Linked DNA regions of Homo sapiens. The protein of the gene in region 1 interacts with the protein of each later gene in a biochemical or structural test. Each region holds a gene or a part of one and is shown in the gene's direction. Other genes may lie near its edges.

What was found.
Region 2: the proteins of ODC1 (region 1) and RSC1A1 form a complex in vitro, tested with the Homo sapiens proteins (one study listed by BioGRID).

The regions. Positions count from the first base shown.
Region 1 is NC_000002.12:10,445,413-10,449,949, reverse strand, and holds the start of ODC1 (ornithine decarboxylase), read left to right. Parts: upstream 1-1,622; 5' UTR 1,623-1,829; intron 1,830-1,937; exon of another isoform or gene 1,938-2,476; intron 2,477-3,100; exon of another isoform or gene 3,101-3,236; intron 3,237-4,537. UniProt on the Homo sapiens protein: Catalyzes the first and rate-limiting step of polyamine biosynthesis that converts ornithine into putrescine, which is the precursor for the polyamines, spermidine and spermine.
Region 2 is NC_000001.11:15,658,120-15,662,565, forward strand, and holds RSC1A1 (regulatory solute carrier protein family 1 member 1), read left to right. Parts: upstream 1-1,593; 5' UTR 1,594-1,749; coding exon 1,750-3,603; 3' UTR 3,604-3,914; downstream 3,915-4,446. UniProt on the Homo sapiens protein: Mediates transcriptional and post-transcriptional regulation of SLC5A1. Inhibits a dynamin and PKC-dependent exocytotic pathway of SLC5A1. Also involved in transcriptional regulation of SLC22A2.

The DNA.
Region 1 (4,537 bases):
GCGCTCAAGGACTATGTAAAGATAAAGTTGATAGGGGCGTACCACCCCCACATCCCTTCACATAGGAAGAAGACTCACTTCTGCTTACGGCTAGCGTTTGCTCTGTTTCTGTGGAAGTCGTGCCTGCTCCAGGAAGAGCTGGATCATCCATTCATTCATTTATGCATGCATTCATTAAACAGGTATTCACTGACTGTGCCTCAGACCTGGTTTTGGGTACCAAGGAAGTTTTTCAAAACCTCACAGGGCTTTGTAGCTATAAAGATATGTAAGGATCCTTGGGTTATCTGAAGCCCAGAGAAGGGAGATAACTTGTCCAAGAGCACACAGCAAGTTGGGGGCAGCGCTGGGCCAGTGCTCTGAGCTCCTCCAACCCCGCCCCCACCCACCCAAGGCTAGATCTAGATCTACCCACTCCTCTCCTTAACTCTTCATCGGCTGTACTCCCACCCTAAGGAGTCGAAATCCCCACCCTAGGGAGAGACATATCCTGTCTGGATTGTCCAAAAGGGAATGAAAGGTAAAAATGAAAAAAAAAAAAAAAAGTGTCCCCAATTCAAGTGCAGTGCCTCCCTGGTGCGGGCATTCCAGCGTGGCCTGGAGTGAGTGGCAGTCCACCTCCAGAGGCGTCCCCTGGGCGCTCCTAGGGACTCGAATTTCCCACGCGGCTTTTTGCTTTATGTATTCACTGTTTAGACGTTTTCGGTCAAAGCATTTTGGGACTTCCGTAACTCTCAGAGCGCGCCAGGGAGCCGCCCTTAAAGATACCTAGTTACTGATGAGTTCCATCCGGTAAAGCAGAGGGTAGTGGGCGGCTTGGAGACTCAGGATCCGGGTCCCCTCACGCTCCTGGCTGAGTCCCTGGCTTCACAGGGGAAACTACCTCCGCAGGCCAGGACCCATCTAGTTACAGGATACCTCGATGTTACAAAGACGAGGCTTCCAGCGCGGGGGCGTGGAGGCGGCTGCCAGCCCTGCCCGCAGCGTGCTGGCGACCCCCGGGACGCCCCTTCCCTCCCGCGCCTCTGCTCCCTAGCTGGTGGGAGCAGAGCGGCACCGGGATCACTTCCAGGTCCCTTGCACCGGAGGAATGGGCGGCAGCAGGGTCCGGAGTCGGCCCGGCGGGGCCCACGTGGCCAGCACATCGGTCCTCCGCTCGCGATTTCCCTTTTCCGCTCTCGGGCACGAGGTACTGAACGCCAGGTGGAAGCACAGCTGTGCAGCTACAGGCTCTGCCGTTCAGCTGCCGCGGGCCGGGGCCGGGGCCTGCGGCGTCGTGCGCGTGCGCGGACCAGTTCCAGGCGGGCGAGACCGCCGCAGGGCGGGGCGGGGCGAGGCGGCCGCAGGGCGGGGAGGGCGGGGAGAGGCGGCCGCAGGGCGGGGAGGGCGGGGCGCGAAGCCGGGGGCGGGGGCCACGCGTGGGGCAGGCGGTGCTCGGCTCGGCTGACGTCGGCCCGCCGGCGCCCCACCAGCTCCGCGCGGGCCCGGGTTGGCCACCGCCGGGCCCCCGCCCCTCCCCCGGCGGTGTCCCGGCCGGAACCGATCGTGGCTGGTTTGAGCTGGTGCGTCTCCATGGCGACCCGCCGGTGCTATAAGTAGGGAGCGGCGTGCCGTGGGGCTTTGTCAGTCCCTCCTGTAGCCGCCGCCGCCGCCGCCCGCCGCCCCTCTGCCAGCAGCTCCGGCGCCACCTCGGGCCGGCGTCTCCGGCGGGCGGGAGCCAGGCGCTGACGGGCGCGGCGGGGGCGGCCGAGCGCTCCTGCGGCTGCGACTCAGGCTCCGGCGTCTGCGCTTCCCCATGGGGCTGGCCTGCGGCGCCTGGGCGCTCTGAGGTGAGGGACTCCCCGGCCGCGGAGGAAGGGAGGGAGCGAGGGCGGGAGCCGGGGCGGGCTGCGGGCCCCGGGCCCCGGGCACGTGTGCGGCGCGCCTCGCCGGCCTGCGGAGACACGTGGTCGCCGAGCGGGCCACGACCTTGAGGCGCCGCTTCCTCCCGGCCCGGGGTTCTCCCGCGGCTGGATAAGGGTGATCCGGGCGCCTCGTTCTGCCCCCGTCTTCACAGCTCGGGGCTGGAGGGGCCTAGGGGAGACCCACCCGGAGACCCTGCGGCCCCGCGCCGGCCTCTTTCCCAACCCTTCGGCGGCCGCGCGCTGGCCGGGGAGCCGTTGGGGAGGCCCTGGCGGCCGCGCAGCAGGTGCAGGGGCGCAGAGCCCGGGCTCGCCTTGGTACAGACGAGCGGGCCCCGGCCTTGGCGCCTTCAGTTTCCTTCCAGTTTTTATTTTCGCTGTGTCTACAGAGCAGATGACACCAATTTGGAAACCCGCGAGAGTGGGTAGAGCTAAGATAGTCTTGCTGTAGTAGCTGTGATATTAGATGCTCGGCCATGACTTAGAGGTGTTTATTTAAGGACTGTGAATGACTCGGTGATTTCGGAAAAGCTTGGCTTAGATGAACGGACATACACAGGGGAGACAGCCCTAAGGTTTGCAGAAAAGGCTGATTGTGCTGTTTGCGAAGTCGAAATAATTGGTGAAAGTGTAGAAGGCAGAACCTCTCAGGAATGTCTGGGGAGGACAAAGAATGTGTTGGCTGACTTTGTTTAAACATAAAATTGGGCAGACTTTAATTGATTTGTGAAATTTTTTTCAAAGTTTGTTTGAATTAGCCCCTATCTCTTCTAACATTATCCTCTTGTGCTAATTGATTGACCATTTTAAATAACTTAGCTGTTACAGAAAGACCGAAAGGTGTTCTTCAGTAAAATATATTCAAGTAAGTTACTTAAGTAACGCCTTAAAAGATACAGAAAAGCAAAAAAGTATTGGCGTATTAAAAAGAAATCAAAACTTTCCAAGTTTAGGCCTGAACATTGCCTTAAAAATATTTAATAAGGCCTCAAATGACCCAGTCCGAGACTGCATGAGCCTATTTATTATTAAATTGTAAATATTCTTCATATAAACAAAAATATATAACCATGTCTGTAACAAAAATGGTTTTGCTAGCGTTGTTACTCTCTTCCCTTCTCCGAGGGGTGATTTAGGCAACTTCGGAGGTTGACAATGCCAAGCAGTCACAATAGATAGAGCTTTAAAGCAAATTCTATGCATGGGTTTGGATTTATGACAGGCCCGTCACCCTGGGCCTGTCATAGTACCCCATGCCAGAGCAAACTGTGTCCCCGAACCATTGCCTGGCCTCTGTGCCCGTAGGCTGCTGGCACTGAAGTGGGTTGCACAGTGGAAAAGAAGAAAGCTCTACCTGGCAGAAATTTTTAAAGGTTAAAATAAATAATTTTAAGAAAGCTGGTTCACAAGGTGCCACATTTGATGAAAGCAAAATACAGTGGCTTTTATTGTTACTAGAGTGATGTTCTTGCTTGTTTTTCTTTTTTGGTGAAGTTAGCCCCAAATTATTCTCATAGCTAAGCAAATACGAGAGTGACTGTAAGGACAGTTGGCATTCCCGGAATTGCTAAACTTGGTAGGCAACGCTGGTTTAAGAATACTGAGTTCTAGCCGGGCGTGGTGGCTCACGCCTGTAATCCCAACACTTTGGGAGGCTGAGGCAGGCGGATCACCTGAGGTCGGGAGTTGGAGACCAGCCTGACTAACATGGAGAAACGCCATCTCCACTAAAAATATAAAATTAGCCAGGCCCCGGGTGTGGTGGCACATGCCGGTAATCCCAGCTACTCGGGAGACTGAGGCAGGAGAATCGCTTGAACCCAGGAGGCGGAGGTTGAGGTGAGCCGAGATCATGCCATTGCACTCCAGCCTGGGCAACAAGAGTAAAACTCTGTCTCAAAAAAAAAAAAAAAAAATACTGAATTCTGATCAGGTAACAGCAACTGTAATACAATGTGATAAGTTGACTTGAAGATTACAGTTTTTAAGAAGTATATACCCAGCTAATACATGAAAATTAACTCGTAAAATCTCAAATGCTCCAGACATTTCCATGATGCCTGTTGGTCAGTAAAAATCATTCTAAGACTTAGTGGAAGTAGGAAATGTTTGTATGGCTGTGTATAAAGGCTATAATGTAATCCCAGCACTTTGGAAGACCGAGGCGGGTGGATCACCTGGGGTCAGGAGTTTGAGACCCACCTGGACAACGTGGTGAAATCCTGTCTCTACTAAAAACACAAAAATTAGCCGGGCATGGTGGCAGGCGCCTGTAATCCCAGCTGCTGGGGAGGCTGAGGCAGGAGAATCGCTTGAACCCGGGAGGCAGAGGTTGCAGTGAGCCAAGATTGCACCGCTGCACTCCAGCCTGGGTGACAGCGTGAGACTCTGTCTCAAAAAAAATAAAAAAGTCTATAATGCTATTTTAAGTTTCTAAGGAACTGAAACTGCTCTGAAATAAATCAGACCATTATAAGACTTTTTTCCATATCAGTGAGCTAAGTGCAGATAAGCTTCTGAAACTTGCATGCTAGATTTTTTTGGTACAAATATTTGAAATGCTTAGTGTGCTGCCTTGGAAAAACCTGGTATTTTTTGTTGTGTCCTTATACTGCCAAGGTTTATGGAATCATGTA
Region 2 (4,446 bases), on another chromosome or scaffold:
TGTTACTGACCTTTTGATTTTTATTTTTTATTATTATTATTTTTTATTTTGACTGAGTTTCACTCTGTCACCCAGGCTGGAGTGCAGTGGTGCAGTCTTGGCTCACTGCAACCTCTCCCTCCTGGGTTCAAGCAATTCTCCCACCTCAGCCTACCTAGTAGCTGGGATTACAGGCACCCACCACCACGCCTGGCTAATTTTTGTATTTTTAGTAGAGATGAGGTTTCACCACGTTGGCCAGGCTGGTCTCGAACTCCTGACCTCAGGTGATCCACCTGCCTCGGCCTCCCAAAGTGCTGGGATTACAGGCATGAGCCACTGTGCCCAGCCCTTTTTGATTTTTAATTAAAGATCTTACAATGGTCGGGTGCGGTGGCTCTTGCCTGTAATCCAAGCACTTTGGGAGGCTGAGGCGGGCGGATCACCTGAGGTCAAGAGTTTGAGACCACCCTGACCAACGTGGAGAAACCTCATCTCTACTAAAAATGCAAAATTAGTCGGGTGTGTGGCGCATGCATGTAATCCCAGCTACTCTGAGGCAGGAGAATCGCTTGGACCCGGGAGGCGGAGGTTGCGGTGAGCTCAGATGGCGCCATTGTACTCCTGTCTGGGCAACAAGAGCAAAACACAGTCTTAAAAAAAAAAAAAAATTCTTACACTTACATGCGTAGAGGTCAATTTTTAACTGGATTGGTGGCAAAAGAAGAGCTGGAAATGATGTTTAATGATACTATGATGCTTACACTGAGCCGTCTTGTTTGGGTGGTCTAAGGTAGCAGTGAATCTAAATAGTCATTGCCAGTTGAAAAACTATTAATGAACCATCTCCCTCCACATTCCCCTTTCTTTAAAACATTTAAATATTCTTAACTTAGTTGCACACTATTGATGTGATAAAAACTTATAAGCCTTTTAAGTTTAGAGTTGTATTATTTGGTAGGATGATGATTGTGATTTAATCTGCTGATCATTAGTTTACTTTTGTTTTCTGAGTCAGATGCTCACCCAGTTTTACCATGATTTTTGGAAAGCTTGGCTAGAAATAAAATAGAACATTTGCTTCTCTGTCCCCAAGCATTATGTTATTTCTTATTTCTCTTTATAATTCCCTCTCTGTCCAGGTATACCTGGTTTAAGACTTCTCATTTGTAACCTCAGTGTTCACATTTGAAACAAGAAAAGTGCATTAACATGAGAATCATTCTGGTGCAAAGATTCTCAGGATTTGTAATATCCTTAAGAATCACCCAAGGAGCTTATTGAAAATGCACATTCCTGGATTTACTCTCAAGTATGGTACCCCAGGGTCTGCATACTTCACAAGCGTCCCTGGTGGTTTTAGGGCAAGTGGTGAAAAAAGTACACTTGGAGAAACTATTCTAGAGTTGTAGACTAGACTAGGGAATAAAGAAACATAAATGTCCTTCATTCCTGAGCACTAACCCCGCCATTATGTGAATGCATATTAATGGATACTTAATCACATTGAATTACAGTATGCAGATTTTATTAAGAACATGTCTACCTCTTATTCTGATGCTGTGAATGTCTACCACAATGAGAAAGTAATTTTAAAATCATTTCTATTTGTGTAAGAGAAACCCGAGTTTGAGGACCTTATTTTATTCTACGCTGTTTAGATTTGTATCCTCTGGTAATTTAGTGGCATTAGTCACCTGCTAATTAATCTTTTTCCTTTCCCCTGTGTTCCATATAGAGAAAAGTGGTAAAGAATCTACCTCACTGGGAATGTCATCATTACCAACTTCAGATGGGTTTAACCATCCCGCCCGTTCTTCAGGACAGAGTCCTGATGTTGGTAATCCTATGAGTCTTGCTCGCTCTGTCTCTGCTTCAGTCTGCCCTATCAAGCCCAGTGACTCAGATCGCATTGAACCTAAAGCTGTGAAGGCTTTGAAGGCTTCAGCTGAATTCCAGCTAAACTCTGAAAAGAAAGAACATCTTTCTTTACAAGATCTTTCTGATCATGCTTCCTCAGCAGACCATGCTCCAACAGACCAGAGTCCAGCTATGCCTATGCAGAATTCATCCGAAGAAATAACTGTTGCAGGTAATCTGGAGAAATCTGCTGAAAGAAGCACCCAGGGCCTCAAATTTCATCTCCATACAAGACAGGAAGCTAGTTTATCTGTCACATCTACTAGGATGCATGAACCACAGATGTTTCTAGGTGAAAAGGATTGGCATCCAGAAAATCAGAACCTGAGTCAAGTGAGTGACCCTCAGCAGCACGAAGAACCAGGGAATGAACAGTATGAGGTTGCACAACAAAAAGCTTCACATGACCAAGAATATCTTTGTAACATAGGGGACCTTGAGCTTCCTGAAGAAAGGCAACAGAATCAACACAAAATTGTTGATTTGGAAGCTACGATGAAAGGAAATGGGCTCCCACAGAATGTGGATCCTCCAAGTGCGAAGAAAAGTATTCCATCTTCAGAATGCAGTGGCTGCTCAAATTCAGAAACATTTATGGAAATCGATACAGCTCAACAGTCCCTAGTTACTTTGCTTAATTCAACAGGCAGGCAGAATGCCAATGTCAAGAACATTGGTGCATTGGATCTCACTTTAGATAATCCCTTGATGGAAGTAGAAACATCAAAATGTAACCCTTCATCTGAAATTTTGAATGATTCCATTTCCACTCAGGATTTACAGCCCCCAGAAACTAATGTTGAAATACCTGGAACAAATAAAGAATATGGCCATTACTCCTCTCCAAGTCTCTGTGGCAGTTGTCAGCCTTCTGTGGAGTCAGCAGAAGAATCTTGCCCGTCTATAACGGCAGCCTTGAAAGAACTTCATGAACTTTTGGTTGTTAGCAGTAAACCAGCTTCAGAAAATACATCTGAAGAAGTAATCTGTCAATCAGAAACCATAGCTGAGGGCCAAACCAGTATTAAAGACCTTTCTGAAAGATGGACCCAAAATGAGCATCTTACCCAGAATGAACAGTGTCCACAAGTCTCCTTTCATCAGGCCATATCTGTATCAGTGGAGACAGAAAAATTAACAGGTACTTCATCTGACACTGGAAGAGAAGCTGTAGAAAATGTAAACTTCAGGAGTCTAGGTGATGGCCTGTCAACCGATAAGGAAGGTGTCCCCAAATCTAGGGAATCCATAAATAAGAACCGTTCTGTCACTGTAACCTCAGCTAAAACATCCAATCAGTTACACTGCACCTTAGGTGTAGAAATTTCACCCAAACTTTTAGCAGGTGAGGAGGATGCACTCAATCAGACTTCTGAGCAAACTAAGTCTTTGTCATCCAATTTCATATTGGTTAAAGACTTAGGTCAGGGCATACAGAATTCAGTAACAGACAGGCCTGAAACCAGAGAAAATGTCTGTCCTGATGCTTCGAGGCCATTACTTGAATATGAACCACCTACCAGCCATCCATCATCAAGTCCTGCCATTCTTCCACCATTGATTTTTCCTGCCACAGATATTGACCGCATTCTCCGTGCTGGCTTTACTTTGCAGGAAGCTCTTGGAGCTTTGCATCGAGTTGGTGGGAATGCAGACCTTGCACTTCTTGTTTTGCTCGCAAAAAACATCGTAGTTCCTACATGACTGTGGGAAAGTGGGCTAGACCGTTCTCCATTCCCTTTAAACAAAAGAAAGCTCTCTCTATATACACGCACACATACACACTCACCACATATACAGTATATATAGAAACCTGCAAGCAGAATGTTGAGCCAGATTTTTTTTAAAGATTTTTTTCGGCCAAAGTAATTTATGATCTTTTGTCTGATGAATTTGTCTATCCTACTTGTTAAAATTTAGGCCTTTTTAAATGTATTGGCAGTATGTGCATACAGAAGCTTTTTATTCTCATTAAGATGTATCCTGGAATAAAATGGATGGTTTTGTGTGTAGCATACTGTTTTAGAATGAGAGTAAATGCTTTGAAAAGCAGAAGCCATGAGAAATCCCACTACCCATCCAGCTAAAAACAGATGAACTCTCCACACTGTGACTGTGTGTCTGTGCTGATGGCAAGGTATGGTTTGCTGGCTCAGTTGTCAATTTAGAAACTTTTGACCACATAATTTGGTGTTTGGAATTCTACCCAGTGCTCTGTGTATCATGATTCATTAATTATAACAGGAAATTGGAGAATAATTGAATATCTTATCGTAGAGTGGTATGTTTTTATTTGTGTGCTTAGGATTTGACATTTTAATAGGGCGAGCAGGAGGGTTTAAATCTTGGGCTACTTTGTGCATCACAGGCTGCTGCATGGATTGCCATGAATCCTTATTACATTGGATGGGATATTGTGGGGGAGTTACAATGCAAGTGAAACGTGGTGCTACCCAGATTCTTAAAAGAACAGAACAACCATAATTCCATTTGCAGATGTCAAGAACTGTGAGGGAAAAATAATGGCCTAAACACTGGAATTTGCTA